Linked DNA regions of Homo sapiens. The protein of the gene in region 2 interacts with the protein of the main gene of each other region in a biochemical or structural test. Each region holds a gene or a part of one and is shown on either strand. Other genes may lie near its edges.

Region 1 (3,500 bases), on a different chromosome or scaffold from region 2:
TTCAGGTAATAGGTTCACATGGTTCAAAATACACATAAAATAAAAAGTAAAAGTCTCCTTCTTACCATGTTCCTGGCCCTGATCATTATTTATGACTTCTTGTTTATCTTCTCATTATTTACATTTACAATGAAAATAGAATGCATTCTTTTTTCCTTTTTTTCTTTTTTGAGATAGGGTCTCACTGTCGCCCAGACTGGAATGCAGTGGCAATCACGGCTCACTGCAGCCTTGAACTCCTGGGCTAAAGCAATCCTTCCGCCTCAGCCTCCTGAGTAGCTGGGACTACAGGCATGCGCCACTACTCCCAACGAATTTTTAAATTTTTTATAGACATGGATTTTTGTTATTTTGCCAGGCTGGTCTCAAACTCCTGGACTCAAGCAGTTCTCCTGCCTTGGCCTCCCAAAGTGCTAGGATTACAGAGCCACCATGCTAGGCCTATTAGAATACATTCTTACTCACCTCTTCCTTTTAAACAAACCGTAGCATAGTATATGTACTGTCTATACCTTATTTCCTTTTTTCACTTATCTTGGCAATCTTTTCATATCAGTATGATGGAGAGCTTCCTCTTTTTTTTTTTTTTTTTTGAGACAGTTTCACTCGGTCATGCAGGCTGGAGTATAGTGGTGCGATGTGGGCTCACTGCAACCTACGCCTCCTGGACTCAAGCGATCCTCCCGTCGAGAGCTTCCTCCTTTTAAAAAATATTTCTGTTGAATGGAATAATATTTTATTTTAAACAATTTGAAAGATTTTAGGTTGCCAGAGTAGTTCCGTTCCTGTTTGGATTGCATTCCAGGTTGGCACACATCTCTCTTTCCAAGTTGTCCACTTTCCCTTCCTCTGCTTTCACTGCCCCAGCTCTTTCCAGGCTTCCTCATTTGGCTGCATGTGTAGTACCATGCCGAAAGCACTGGACTGCCAGACGGGAGACAGGAATTTTGGTCTTGGCTTGACTGATGCCTACTATTGTGTGCCTGCTTTTGATACCAGTTTCCTCTTTTGACTAGACAGTTTCTGGAGTTTGGCTTTAACATTCTTTGATTTGATTCTTAACTTGTGTGGTGGCAATGGCCACCTTTCACCCAATAGTGACTATAGGCTAGGTGTTGGAGTCTGAAGAGGAGGAGGCTTGGAGTAAGAGCTGGAAGCGCATTAGAAGTGGAACAGAAGTACAGTAGCCCTTATGTGAAGGGATGACAATATGGCACAAGAATCGGTGTGCCATCATCTTTAGCTGTCTAAAGCAATTTGGGCAACCTGAGACTGAATGTATAAGAGTCATATGAGAGAAGTTTTTATTTATTTGTCAAGATCCCTTGCAGTTTATCTGGAGTTAGCTTTTGAATTTGTGTATTTGACAAAGAGTTTGATTTTTTTTTTAGGGGATAGAGAAAAAGTTTTGTGACAGGACTTCCAATTTTGATGTCTTTCTGATATGTATATATGCATATTTGCATTTCAGACAATAGATGATTTGCTGCGGTGTGGAATTTGCTTCGAGTATTTCAACATTGCAATGATAATACCTCAGTGTTCACATAACTGTAAGTATGTTTTGTTCCTGTGAGTTAGTAAATTGCGATTTTTACATGAGGTAGTGTTAATTTAACACCAAAGATATGTGCACATATTTATGTTTCACCTTTAGCTCTTCTATCTTGTAGTTTTTCAGAAGGTCTTTTTCACTGCCTTCCTCTTGAATATTGAAGGTTTTTACAAGGCTTCTATATTTTCTACCTCGTTCCTCTTTGATATTTTTATGATTCTTATAGCATTTATGGCAGTAAAATTTTTGGTCACAATAAGTGGTTCTTTATTTGCCAAGTGTTTTTTGACGTTAAGTTTCAGAATTTTTGTTTTTAACAGGATAACAGATAGGTGGTTCCACCAAGTAGTACTTGATATAGAATTTCAAAGTTTAAAAATCTGTAACAATAAGAATATTGCCCCAGTGGGAGAATTCTACCACTGACTTTATTACAGACAGTTTTATACCTTAACTGCTATGTGACGCTGGAAAGACTCATGTTGGAATTTGTTTGTACTTCTCTTTAAGAGTCTAGTATATAAGCATTTAAAAATATCGTACCTTAAGATATTTAGTGCATAGGGGTTACCCTATCATTGTTGAGGAGCTAGACATACAGTTTATGGGTTATTCAGGTTCATGATCTTTCTTGTCCTCTATTTTCAAGTTGATTTATCTTGGAAAGTTAAAAACAGTCAACTTAGGCCTAAGAAATTGGTTTTAGTTGGTAGTAGCTTTGGTGGAAAAGTTTCTGTGGAGAAGACATAGTAAGAGGGTAGCAGTGACGGCAGCACGGGCATTGCAGATGCCCTTGGGCTTGACTCTTGAAAATCGGGTGAGAATTTACTACTTTAGAAAATGTTTGTGAGAATTAAATGTGCAGAACTCACTGTCCGGCACATTATGAGTCCTTAACAATGTTAGTTTTCTTCCAGACAAGATTCACATTAAAAACCAAGATAAGTTTTGGAGATTGTTTTAAAATATATTTTAACATCATCTTTATTTGGGTGTAATTTACATACAATAAAATACATCCATTTTAAGTGCACATTAAGGTATAAAAGTGTTCATGAATTTTGACAAATGTGTATGCTGTGTTACTACTGCAATTAAGATACTGAACATTTTCATTATCTGATAAATTTCTCCCCATCTCAGTCAGTATGACCTCAGCTAGCCATCTGTAGTCTATTTCTGGACTCTTCTATTCCATTGATCTTAGAAACTTAGTAGTTTTTCACCAAAACTACTGCCCACTAAAACCAATTGTTTAGGCCTAAGTTTACTGTTGCTTTAGCTTTCCAAGATAAATCAACTTGAAAATAGAGAACAGGAAAGAGCATGAACCTAAATAATCTGTAAACTGTTTGTCTAACTCCTGAACAATGATAGGATAACCCCTATTGCAGTAAATACCTCAAGGTACAATATTTTAAAATGCTTATATGCTAGACTCATATATGTCTATCCTTGTGCCAGTACCACACTATCTTGATTACTGTGGCTTTGTAGTAAGTCTTGAAGTCAGGCATTGTAAGTCCTCCAACTTTTTTTTCTTCGTTTTTTTTAGGATCGTTGCATTTTAAATGCATTTCCATGTATAACTTAAAATCAGGTTGTCAATTTCTACCAAAAGCCTGCTGGGATGTTCACTGGAATTGTATTGAATCTAGAGATCAATTTGGGAGAATTGACATCTTAACAATGCCGAGTCTTCAGTGTATGAATATGATACACTTCTCTATCTTTATTTCTCTCAACAGTGTTGTTTGATTTTCATTGCACAGACCTTGCACAAAGAAATATAACTTATATTGACCTTTCGTCTTCTGACTGCAGTAAATTCACTTTAATTCCAGCATCTTTTTTGTTGATTCCTTAGAAATTTTTGCATACACAATCATGTCATTTGTGGATAAAGACAGTTTTACTCATTCCTTTCTGATCTATATGCCTTTAT
Region 2 (3,500 bases):
ACTTTGGGAGGCCAAGGCAGGCAGATCACTAGGTCAGGAGTTCGAGATCAGCCTGGCCAATATGGCGAAATCCCGTCTCTACTAAAAAGTACAAAAAATTAGCAGGGCATGGTGGCACACACCTGTAGTTCCAGCTACTGGGGAGGCTGAGGCAGGAGAATTGAACCCGGGAGGCAGAGGTTACAGTGAGCCAAGATCGCACCATTGCACTCCAGCCTGAGCAACAGAGTGAGACTCAGTCTCAAAAAAAAAAAAAAAAAAAAAAAGGTGATACAGTAGCCCAAGGAACAGAGAGCAGATAACCTGGTGATACTAGGAAGTCAACAATTAAGAGAGATGTCAACTTTAAGAAAAAAAAAAAAGAGCTTTTTAACATCAAGTTGAGCTAGTCGTAATCTTTAACTACCAGAATTCAGAAGATTAAAGTTTCTATAGTGGGAATGTAAATTAGTACAACCACTATGGAAAACAATTTGGACGTTCCTCAAAAAACTAAAAATAGAGCTACTACATGATCCAACAATCCCACTGCTGGGTATATACCCAAAAGAAAGGAAATCAATGTACCGAAGAGGTATCTGCACTCCCATGTTTGTTGAAGCACTATTCATAATAGCCAAAATTTGAAAGCGACCTAAGTGTCCGTCAACAGATGAATGGATAAAGAAAATGTGGTACTTACACACAATGGAAGTACTATTCAGCCACGAAAAAGAAGATCTTGTCATTTGCAACAACATGGATGGAACTGGAGATCATTATGTCAGGTGAAATAAGCCAGGCACCGAAAGACAAGAGTTGCATGTTCTCACTAATTTGTGGGATCTAAAAATTAAAACAATTGAACCCATAGAGAGCAGAAAGATGGTTACCAGAGGCTGAGAAGGGTGGTGGGAGGGTGTGGGGGATGTGGGGACAGCTGATGGGTACAAAAAATAGTTATAAAGAATGAATTATCCAGCACTTTGGGAGGCCAAGGCAGGTGGATTGCTTGAGCTCAGGCACTCGAGACCAGCTTGGGCAACATGGTAGAACCCTATTTCTACCAAAAATACAAAAAAGTAGCTGGATGTGGTAGTGTGCATCTGTGGTCCCAGCTACTCAGGAGGCTGAGGTGGGAGGATCACTTGAGCCTGGGAGGCGGAGGTTGCAGTGAGCCGAGATCACACTACCACACTCTAGCCTGGGTAACAGAGCCAGACCCCATCTCGAAAAAAAAAAAAAAAGAATGAATTAAGACCTAGTATTTGATAGCACAGCAGGGGGATTATAGTCAGTAATTTAATTGTGCAGTTTAAAATAACTAAAAGAGTACTTTGAGGGGCTGAGGCAGGCAGATCACTTGAGCCCAGGAGCTTGAGACCAGCCTGGCCAATGTGGCAAAACCTCGTCTCTACTAAAAATACAAAAAAAAAAAAAAAAAAAAAAAAAAGAGCTGGGCATGGTGACATGCCTGTAATCCCAGCTACTCAAGAGGCTGAAGCATGAGAATTGCTTGAACCTGGGAGGCAGAGATTGCAGTGAGCTGAGACTGTGCCACTGCACTCTAGTCTGGGCCACAGAGGGAGACCTTGTCTCAAAAAGAAAAAAAGAAAAGAATATAATTGGATTGTTCGTAACACAAAGGATAAATGCTTGAGGGAATGGATACCCTGTTTTCCAGGATGTGATTATTACACACTGCATGCCTGTATCAAAACATCTTATATACCCCATCAATATATACACCTACTGTGTACTCAGAAAAATTAAAGTCTTCACAGTCACAAAAAAATAAAAAAGTAATTTTTTAAAAGTTTCTATAGCAGTAGTTGGTGCTAGTGTCAGCTGAAGAAGAGCTTCTAATGTTCATTACTTTTCACTAAAATGAAAGCACTTTGACCAGTATGGTATGTAATTCTCAAGGATCATTCAGATTTTTTCCCACATAGCTATTTTTGGATTCCTTTTGATCCTATAAAATGTGCGTTTACTTAGTGTTTCCTAGTGATTAAATATCCTTTTAAATTTACCAACACGTTGCTCAAGAAAGAAAACATATTTTGCAGTGAGGATTCTCAGTCCTGGTTGTACATTAAAATCACCTGAGGAACTTTTTTAAAACATTGATGCCTGAGCCCTACTTCAGAACTGTTCAATCAAAATCTTTGGGTCTGGGCATCTGAAATTTTTAAGGCTCCCAAGGTGATTCTAATGCATAATAAATGTTGAGGACTATTGATTTAGATGATAAAATTATAGATTTGAAATTTATTTTTAAAATTTGTCTTCTGTTGCAGCAATTGACATGTGGTCTGCAGGTGTCATATTTCTTTCTTTGCTTAGTGGACGATATCCATTTTATAAAGCAAGTGATGATTTAACTGCTTTGGCCCAAATTATGACAATTAGGGGATCCAGAGAAACTATCCAAGCTGCTAAAACTTTTGGTAAGCAGTTTTGTATTATAGAACCAAACAAAATGCCTTTGATTATCTCCTACAAATCACTTAATAAATTATTGTGAAATTTTCTTTACAAATAAACATTCAGTCTTGATAAAGTTCTCTAATATTAAGTAGAAAATTCTTCAGTTGCTTGAAAATAAATTTATCACCTCTCTATACATATAATCATTTAATCTTATTAAGCACAAAGTAATACACTGTTGCAGTATTTAAAGTTTACCTTTATAATTTTATAAGAATAAGGAGTAAAATCTTAACTCCTTTTAGTTATGGTTTGACTTTTATTACATAAATTTACCTTTTATTAAAGGCATGTTTTACTTTGTAATATGTTTTACTTTTTTATTGTCTTTTAAACATCAGATGCACTATGTCTTGGTACTTAGAGTGTCCTTGCCTTAAATGATCTTAGGCTATACTAACAAGTAAACAGTTAATTATTAATACAGTGTAATAAGGACTAGGGAAGAGAATGGAAATGTGTGTTGTCAGGTTGTGTAGGTTTACGGTAGCAGAGAAGCAGAATGCATAGAAGGCCTTAACTGATGGGATATTATTGTAAGCATATATTGGACTTGGATGTCATCTCCTTAGCCACGCAAGTTCTTCAAGACTGGGATGTGCAGTGTACTTCATAGGGCACATAAGAATTATCTCAGCCTTGCTCTGGCCAACAATCTGAACTCAAGTGCCCATTTAATGTTTATTTTCCACGCTCAGTTATAGTTAATACTTTCCAAGGAATAAGTGGGATTGACTCAGCTTACTACCATACAATACAGAACACCTCAGGAGACAAAGTTTCAGCCAGCCTACCTCAAGAGTAGCTGGGCTGTCTTGTGCTCAACCCCAGGATCAGTGGGTCTTAACCAGAGTTGCATGTCAGAATTATCTGAGAATCTTTAAGAAATACATATGCCTGCCCACTCAGCCTATTCTTGGAAAATATGATTCAGAAAAACAAGATACTTAGGAAGGCTCCAGCCTTGTTAGTTTGAAAAAGCAAGTGATTCTGACTAAGAAACTATGGGTGTTTAAGAACCACTGCAAAAA

The links. Proteins that work in one complex are often made in the same cells at the same time.
Region 1: of the proteins of CDC7 (region 2) and RAD18, one has a biochemical effect on the other in vitro, tested with the Homo sapiens proteins (one study listed by BioGRID).

Annotation. Positions count from the first base shown.
Region 1 is NC_000003.12:8,956,973-8,960,472, reverse strand, and holds part of RAD18 (E3 ubiquitin-protein ligase RAD18), read left to right. Parts: intron 1-1,471; coding exon 1,472-1,553; intron 1,554-3,500. UniProt on the Homo sapiens protein: E3 ubiquitin-protein ligase involved in postreplication repair of UV-damaged DNA. Postreplication repair functions in gap-filling of a daughter strand on replication of damaged DNA.
Region 2 is NC_000001.11:91,517,851-91,521,350, forward strand, and holds part of CDC7 (cell division cycle 7-related protein kinase), read left to right. Parts: intron 1-682; exon of another isoform or gene 683-825; intron 826-2,279; coding exon 2,280-2,429; intron 2,430-3,500. UniProt on the Homo sapiens protein: Kinase involved in initiation of DNA replication. Phosphorylates critical substrates that regulate the G1/S phase transition and initiation of DNA replication, such as MCM proteins and CLASPIN.